Regions from separate parts of the Homo sapiens genome. Here region 2 is linked to region 1. The links come from fine-mapping of genetic effects on gene expression. A gene starts in region 1. The other region holds a variant in brackets. All regions are shown on one strand. Distances are between the middles of the regions.

Region 1 (4,382 bases):
GAGGTAGGAGAATGGCGTGAACCCGGGAGGTGGAGCTTCTAGTGAGCCGAGATGGTGCCACTGCACTCCAGCCTGGGCGACAGAGCGAGACTCCGTCTCAAAAAAAAAAAAAAAGAAAAAAAAGAAAAGAAAAAGAGAGTTGCAGGAGAGGCCAAATCTGCCGTGAGTTTTATCAGGAACAACAAGACAAAATACATGACATGTGCTTTAGCAACAAATATGTACGTGGCAAACCTATTTTGTTTGTTTTTTTTTAAATAAGGGCATGAAAGCTGACACTCAGGAGGGGGTTACCTGTGGGAGGGGCAAATGGCTGAAGCCCCAGAGGCAGCTGTTCCGGCTTTGGGAGAATGGGTGGATACCTGAGACAGGCAGGGGCACGCCACCGTCCACTCTGTCTTTCTCTTTTGCCACTGATACATACGTTACACATACTACTTTATACGAAGTACTGCTAAAGTGTTTCAATAAATTAAAAAACTTTGGTCTCTTGGCTGAAAATGGGATGAATGCAGGGTGGTGAGATCTGAGCAGCCAGTCCCTTAGGGAGACACCCAAGCGAGAGAGAACATCGGCAGAAGAGATGGAGAGCAAGGTGAGATCAAGATGCTTTGGCCAGAGTCAATGGCTGCTGCTAGACAGATTACCGGACAAAAGAGAGGGAAGAATAGAAGATGGTCACAGGTTTCAAGCATGAGAGGCCCTGCAAGATGGGGCCACAAATAAGGAGGAAGGACTGGAAGAAGAACAGGTTTGAGAAGCAGGGCAAGTTTGACGTGACTATTAGACATGCGTCTGGAGAAATCAAGCAGGTGTCTGAATTACAGATCCTGAGCTCAGAGCTGAAAACATGAATTAGTGAAATAAGGGGCGGGGGGGGCGGTGCTGGGGCACAGGGATATTTAAAGCCAAGAATTCAGCAAAGACCATAGGAAGAGCGTAGATAGGGAATGAGAATCGCCATTACTTGGAGGATGCCAACCTTGAAGGTAAAGCAGAGAAAGTGGCACCAGCAGAAGAAAACTTGATGTGGAGCGGCAGGTAAAGTGGAGGAGAAACCAGGAGTCGCTGTCACACACGAACACCCATCTTTCGTTGTCAACTGCAAAACTCACTGAGACCAACTTTTTATTCACGACAATTAATGGTAACTTAAGGACTCATTTTCTTTTTCTTTTTTTTTTGAGACAGAGCCTCGCTCTGTCGCCCAGGCTGGAGGGCAGTGGCGCGATCATGGCTCACCGCAGCCTCGACCTCCTGGGCTCAAGCGATCCTCCCACCTCAGCCTCCAGAGTAACTGGGACAACAGGAGCGCACCACTCTGCCTGGCTAATTTTTTTATTTTTAGCAGAGAAGGGAGTCTCGCTGTTGCCACGGCTGGTCTCGAACTCGCGGGCTCAAGTGATCCGCCCACTTCGACCTCCGCCACCGCGCCCGGCCCTAGGACCAACGTTAAGAGCTCCCTAGGAAAAGGCACCTTTTCTCTCGGCCCATTCGGTGATCGGCACTCACAGCGCTTCCACTCCGGGCAGTTACGTGCGCCCATGAAAAGCAACAACTTTGTAGAACTGGCCAGTCCTGTTAGCAGGAAGAACTCGGTAGTCTCAAACTCCAGCATAAAAAGATTCAGCAGAAGAAAACACCCGTGTGCTGAAGACTCCTACTTTCCATGCCACACTTTACATCCTCACCCGCTCGGTTTCTGCTTTAAAGCAGCAGATTTTATTAAAAAGACTTCGTTACGGACGTCGCTCCTCCACAGAGACAGCTACCGCCGCCCCTCAGGCTGGCCGGGACCGCCCCAGAACACCAGCGCCTGAGGCCGCGCGCCTGGAGGCTGAGCCCTGACTGCCCCCTGGGCACCGGCGCGGGGCGGCCGTCCGGGCCTGGACTCACTGCGCGCCCCAATTCCGCACCTGCCAGCGCCGGCGCTTCCAAGGCCCCCAGAGCGGGGGCGGCGCGCACCCCGGCCACATCCCGCCTGCCCGCCCGGCCCGGCCCCGGGAGACGCTCGGCCCGGCCGCCCGGGCCCGCCGCCGCCATCTTACCGTGCGGAACCTGCCTCCCGCGCTGCGCGGTCTGGGCGGCTGCGGCTCCGCAGCCTCTCCTGGGCTGGGGAGAGGTGGCGGCCGCCGGGGCGCCCGAGTAGAAGGAGGCAGAGGTGGGGGCCGCGGCGGAGGCGGGGGCGGGGGCGGGGGCGGGGAGCGGGAGGGCAGGCGCACCGGAGGCCGCCCCTCAGCACCTCTCGCGACAGCAAGAGAGCGCGAGAGCGCGAGCCGATGACCAATGAAGCGCCCCCGCGAGGGGGCGGGGCGGACGGCCTCCCGGAAGCGCGGAACCTCAGCTTCCGTACTTGCGCAGAACTCCCCTCGCGGCGACCACGCACTACGGGTTGGCGCCAGAGTCAAAAGGCGTCGGCCCTCTGGCAAGATGGCTGCTGCGGAGGCGTTGGAGCGCGGAAATCTGGAACCGGGATGGCGACGTCTACACTGAGTCGGAGGCGAAGGTCCCAGCTTTTTTCCTGTCGTTTGCGTGAGGCCGCACGGGGTGGGGCGGGGGAAAGGCGCCGGGTGTCCGCGGCCGCCCCTCAGACGGGGAGGGAGTCCCCTCCCGACCGGCGGCCTTCCAGGGCTAGTGTCCCTGAGGTCCAGGGAGAGACGGCTGACCCGAGACCGGGCTGGGCGAGAGCTGTGCTGTCTGCGCGTTGAAGCGAGTTCCCCCGCTTTACTCGAGATGTTGTTGAGCGCGTCCTCACTCGAGGCCAGGTGGGGAATCAGAAGGGCCCTGCCCTCAGGGCGCCTCCCATGGGCTACGCCGAAGGGCGGGACGCGGCCAGGGCGCGCGGGACAAAGGAGACCCCACTTGCTTGCGGGGCGGAGTCCCGGCGGCGGCGCGGGGCAGGGCCGGGGTTACTCGGTGACTGGAGACCCTCCCGGCAGGAGCGCGGGTTGAGGCCGCACTTGGGTATTTGCGCGTTTACTTGCTTATTGCCTGTCCGCTCAGGAGGAATGCGAAGTCTGTCATTGCAGGGTCCCATGTTTCCGTTGCTGGGAAGTACCTTAAAATATTTGATAGAGCCGAAGGAAGAAATAGAGTCCTTGAGGGGCAGCTCCTGATTTCATCTGTGAGGAATTCACGGGACGGCTTCTTTCTGAAGTCAGGGGTGAGGTGGTTTCGTGTGTTTGCTTACAAGCGAGCTGAACAACGTGTAAGCTATGTCGGTCGGTCTACTCAGCGACAGTAAGTCCAGTTCGGCAAATAGGTTGGAGGAGACTGATTTTGGACATTTTCCGTTAATCGAAAGAGCTAAATCTGCAGGTATAAGGTCTTGACAAAATTATGCTTCATATGCAGAGGCAGTACATGCCAGTAATTTTTTCATTTGCAACTACATAACCCTATGGGAAACAGTTATTGGTCTTTATTTAGTTATTTATTTTGAGACGAAGTCTCACTCTCGCCCAGGCTGGAGCGCAGTGGCGCCATCTCGGCTCACTGCAACCTCCGCCTCCCGGGTTCAAGCGATTCTCCTGCCTCAGCCTCCCGAGTAGCTGGGACCACAGGGGCGCACCACCACGCCCAGCTAATTTTTGTATTTTTAGTAGAGACGGGGTTTCCCCTTGTTGGTCAGGCTGGTCTCAGTGTCTTGACCTCGTGATCCGCCCGCCTCGGACTCCCAAAGTGCTGGGATTACAGGCGTGAGCCACCGCTCCCGGCCTATTTTGATTTTATTTTATTCTATTTTTTGAGAAGGAGTCTCACTTTGTTGCCCAGGCTGGAGTGCACTGTCATGATCTCGACTCACTGCAACCTCCGCCTCCTGGGTTCAAGTGATTCTCCTGCCTCAGCCTCCCGAGTAGCTGGAACTACAGGCACCCGCCACCACGCCCGGCTACTTATTTTGTATTTTTAGTACGGGTGGGGTTTCACCATGTTGGCTAGGCTGGTCTCGAACTCCTGACCTCAAATGATCACCCACCTCGGCCTCCCAAGGTGCTCGGATTACAGTCATGAGCCACCGCATCCGGCCTATTTTTATTTTTTAAAGTTTTTTAGAGACGGGGTCTTGCCTTCTTGCCCAGGCTGGTCTCGATCTCCTGGGCTCAAGCCATCCTCCCGCCTCGGCCTCTGGGAGTGCTGGGTTTACAGGCGTCAGCCACCATGCCCAGCCTGAACGTCAAGGAGAAAGTGTGCAAGGGGATGCACGAGCAGAAAGCTTGAGTGCTAGCGCCTTAAGGCGACATTCCTTAACATTCCAGTCCAAAGAGGCTGTCTCAGTGCCTGCCTGTGGGTCACAGGTTAATGCTCCTCCTCCCAACAGCCAACCGGTTACCAAGTCCTGCTCGAGCCCCCTCCTTAATCCTCTCTAGAAACTGGCTCCT
Region 2 (4,382 bases), 42 kb after region 1:
TAAGACGACGGGGGAGGAGTGCGGTTTGATTTTCAGTCCCTGGGTAGAACTGAAGCGCTCTTGGGAGCATCTGTCACATTCTCCCATTTAGGCCTTTGGGAGTTTTGGAGGCTTGCTGCTGTACCGATCGTTGGAAAAGCCTTTCCTCAGGAGGTGCCTTGTTGACTTGATCACCCGAGGTAGCTCCCAGGCACTTGCCTGTAGAGCTGAGATGGCCTCTGCCATCCTGGGGCCCTCATGGGGGCCCCCTATTCCCCAGGCGTTTCACTCTGCTCCACTAGCTGGATCCCTGCCCCGGCATGCGGTGCACCTCAACGAGCCCTGTCCCCTGGCCATCTGTCCCCTGGCACGCCGTCTGTCCCCTGCTCGAGGGCCTTTGGGCTCTGACGATCTCACATGGGGTTATAAGGTGATTGATTCTCTACTGACATAGAAAGCTTTTTGTGCAAGTTGAGGGGGTTTGATGTCTTTGAGCTTTTAATTATAATCCTTGTTTGGATTCATACTTCACTTAATGGAATTACAGCCTGAGGGCTGTGAATGGACGCATTCCTGTAACAGCATTGCTGCGTTCTCAGCTTCTCACTCTTCACGTAAAGGTGTGGCTGCTCTTCCTGTGGTTCAGGTGTATGCCAGCTTTCCATATTTTTATTAATGGCATCGCCTCCAATGGACTCCAGTCTGGAAGGACAACGAAGTGAGATGTGTAAACCCCACCCACCGGGCTAAGAGAGCCTGTTTTACGCTTCTAAACGGTCTTTTTCACTGAAGTTTACAAACAGTTTGCACTTGAATTCATAATGATAGTGCTGCTGTAAATCTGCCTTTTAAAAAGTGATGATAGGAAATTGTCCTTCAGCTTTGAAGCTTAGCTAGTGCGCAAGTCAAGCCTTTAATAACTAGAGTTTGCTGGTTGAAGGTAAAAGATAGAATAATAAAGCATTCTTCTTTCTGAAATAAAATGTAGTCACCGTCATAAATGCTGCTGGCGGTCCTCCCTTACACTCCTCTGAACACTAACATTTTACAAATCCTTTTCTCTATGTGTATCCTATTCAGTAATGCCAGGTGGGCACTTACAGGTTTAAGGGTAAGTCTGCTTTTTAGAGTCAGGTGACAGCACCCTGTGGTGTCCTCCCTTACTCAGCGCCTGTGTTCTTCTTTGTAGCCACGAAGGAAGACAGGAGGTCCGAGGAGAAAGCGGCAGCCATGGCAGCCTCAAAGAAAACAGCCCCTCCAGGCTCCGCGGTGGGCAAGCAGCCTGCACCTAGAAACCTCGTGCCAAAGAAGTCTTCTTTTGCTAATGTGGCAGCAGCCACACCAGCCATTAAAAAGCCACCCTCAGGTTTCAAGGGCACCATCCCCAAGAGGCCATGGCTCTCCGCTACCCCATCGAGTGGTGCTTCAGCTGCCAGGCAGGCCGGACCGGCACCTGCAGCGGCAACGGCTGCCTCCAAGAAGTTCCCTGGCTCCGCTGCTTTGGTGGGAGCCGTAAGGAAGCCAGTGGTACCTTCTGTTCCAATGGCCTCGCCAGCCCCAGGACGCCTTGGGGCTATGAGTGCTGCACCATCGCAGCCAAATTCACAAATTCGGCAAAATATCAGACGCTCCTTAAAAGAGATTTTGTGGAAAAGGTGGGCTGTTCTGCTTGATTTCTTACCCATTAAAATGGAAGGGCTTTCATTAGAGTGTGGCTGCAGGATTGCCTCACTGTTCAAAAAGTTTAATATACACAAGTGTCTTATGTAGTTCCTTTTTTTTATTCTGTTCAGAGTCAATGACAGCGATGACTTAATCATGACAGAAAACGAAGTAGGAAAAATTGCCCTCCATATTGAGAAGGAGATGTTTAACTTGTTTCAAGTTACAGATAATCGCTACAAGAGTAAATATCGCAGCATCATGTTCAACCTGAAGGACCCTAAAAATCAGGTGTGTGCCTGGTGTCGGTGCATTGGAGTATTCCTGTTCTGTTCGCTGGGTGCTAAAGGGATCAACCAATATTTTGAGATGTTCGTGTCCTTTCCAGGAAAGCT[A/G]AGACGTTTCTTTCTCCTCTGTGATCCTTCTGCCGCCCACGTATTGTTGCACTGGCGTTGAGCGTCCTGGAAACCCCTTCCCTTCCCTGCCTTAACTAGGGTCGCGTCCGCTTCCTGGCTTCCCTGAAGTCCACCTTTTATCACCACATTAGTCTCCTGTAAACATTGCTGTAAAGGTACAAGCCAGTCGCTTCACTGGGCTCCAAAATAAAGTCCAGTTCTTCATCCCAGTGTATGAGGGTGTCCGTATTCCGGCCTCAGACAGCCTTTTCCACCTTATTTTCTCATATTCCTCATCAGCCGAGTGAGCCTGATGGTTTGGGCTGCTTGAGTTCTCACCACTTGGAGCAGGGGCTGCTCACGCCCAGGTAGTGGGATCAGTCCTTCCTCACTGCAGCATGGGCCATGCGACGAGGACAGAAACTCCAGCTGGGAGGGATAGGCCGCCGGGCTGACAGCCTTGTGGTGTTCTCTCTCCATCGGCCTCCAGGCTCCTCCCTGTTTAGAATTTTAGGATAATGAAATACCCTGACTTTGCATCTCACCATTGAACAGCCCTAAACAGAAATGATTTCTTCCTTCCTTTGTTCCTGACGCTACCTTTTTGACTTGTGTCCACCTTGTGTACATAATTGTTTTTCCTGAGGTGTTGTGTGTTGTTTTTTTTTTAGCAGAGCCAGTGCAGCACAGGCCGTGAAACCCACTGTTGAACCTTATTACCTGTGCTCTCTGGGCTCCCATTTGCTCACAGCAGGGATATCCTGGGGCGCACTCTCATAAGGCCGTTTGGGGAGTTAGGTCACACCCTGCAGGGAGGGCTCTGCCCAGTGCCACACGCAAGTGGGCCCTGAGGGCCTTTGTCCTGTGCCCGCTAAACTTCTGGGCAGCTGTGTTTTCCAGAAGCTCTCTGTATTGACAGATATAGGAATATTATTTGAGTAAATGAAAAATACTTGTTTATAGGGACTCTTCCATCGTGTTCTGCGTGAGGAAATCTCTTTGGCGAAACTTGTGAGACTGAAGCCAGAAGAACTTGTATCTAAAGAGCTTTCCACGTGGAAAGAGAGGCCAGCGAGATCTGTGAGTGCTGAGGGGTACCTGCGGAGGCACCCAGGACTCGAGCTTAATAGAAATAAATTCATAGACGGCTGCATAAGCGATGCTTTCCTCCTAGAAAACAAGGCCTAAGCTCTGTTTCGTCTTTTTCATTTCAGGTGATGGAGTCCAGAACTAAACTGCACAATGAAAGCAAGAAGACGGCCCCCAGGCAGGAGGCCATCCCCGATCTGGAGGACTCTCCGCCAGTGTCGGATTCAGAGGTAAGCATTTGGGAGATTTTGTGTTCACCGAGAATAGACTAATCCATCCCAAATGTTTTGAGGTTATCTTAAATTATTGGGCAGGACCTGAGCTTACAGCAGGTGTATGTCATTGTGGCATTCCTCAGTCCTTGTATTAGATGGTCCTTTTTTCTCCCCCGTGGGTCTCAATCCCATGAGACTGCTTTTCTTGTGTGTGGTTAATTTGGAGCTGAGTTTGGAGAAGAAACGACCTCACTTTTTTTTCTTTTTCTTTTTTAGGAACAGCAAGAGTCAGCACGTGCTGTCCCTGAGAAGAGCACAGCGCCGCTTCTCGACGTCTTCAGCAGCATGTTGAAAGACACCACCAGTCAGCACCGCGCACACCTCTTCGATCTCAACTGTAAAATTTGCACAGGTGAGCACAGTGCAGGGGATGGAGCCTTGGAGCTGAGACTAAACTTGATTTTGTTAAAAATCACTGAACCTCCTAAAAGCAACCGCACGTAAGCTTAAACACGCAGAAGGGCCAGAATGATTTCCTGCCCTGCCTTTAGAGTATTGCTTTCGGCTTTGTGTGAGAAACACCAGTGTGCCGGCTGGGTTTCTCACAGAGCCTTTCCTCGCCTTCTTCAGGCCAGGTTCCCTCCGCAGAAGATGAGCCAGCTCCGAAAAAACAAAAATTGTCAGCTTCTGTTAAGAAAGAAGACTTAAAATCAAAGCATGACAGCTCTGCACCTGACCCAGCTCCGGATTCAGCTGATGAGGTGATGCCGGAGGCTGTGCCTGAAGTTGCCTCTGAGCCAGGCCTAGAAAGTGCTTCTCATCCAAATGTGGACAGAACGTATTTCCCTGGGCCTCCAGGAGATGGCCATCCCGAGCCCTCCCCGCTGGAAGACCTGTCCCCCTGCCCAGCCTCCTGTGGGAGCGGGGTGGTCACCACCGTCACAGTGTCCGGCCGGGACCCCAGGACCGCTCCAAGCAGTTCATGCACAGCCGTGGCCTCCGCAGCATCCCGCCCAGACAGCACCCACATGGTGGAAGCCAG

Direction of the effects. Positions count from the first base shown, and alleles are read on the strand shown. Sizes are in standard deviations (SD) of each study's normalised expression.
For the expression in tibial nerve of the gene that starts at base 2,155 in region 1, G is the high allele of the variant in region 2 and A is the other (small effect, 0.21 SD a copy in GTEx).

What was found. PIP is the estimated chance that this variant, and not a neighbour inherited with it, causes the effect.
Region 2: its variant is the best candidate, but not a certain one, in a credible set for the expression of GID8 in tibial nerve (GTEx, PIP 0.68).

What each region holds. Positions count from the first base shown.
Region 1 is chr20:62,935,920-62,940,301 of GRCh38, reverse strand. GID8 (GID complex subunit 8 homolog) reads right to left here and starts at 2,155. Exons shown (of 5, transcript NM_017896.3): 1 at 2,049-2,155. It also overlaps a transcript of DIDO1 not described here. RefSeq lists silencers at 1,785-1,914, 1,985-2,214, 2,585-2,634, 2,905-2,954 and an enhancer at 1,421-2,089.
Region 2 is chr20:62,893,783-62,898,164 of GRCh38, reverse strand. It overlaps DIDO1 (death inducer-obliterator 1), which reads left to right. Exons shown (of 16, transcript NM_001193369.2): 7 at 1,169-1,634; 8 at 1,773-1,932; 9 at 3,000-3,116; 10 at 3,251-3,355; 11 at 3,617-3,752; 12 at 3,971-4,382. Among named protein-coding and RNA genes, the nearest start is that of SNORA117, 13 kb to the right of the region's middle. The variant A/G (reference allele first, on the strand shown) is at 2,037.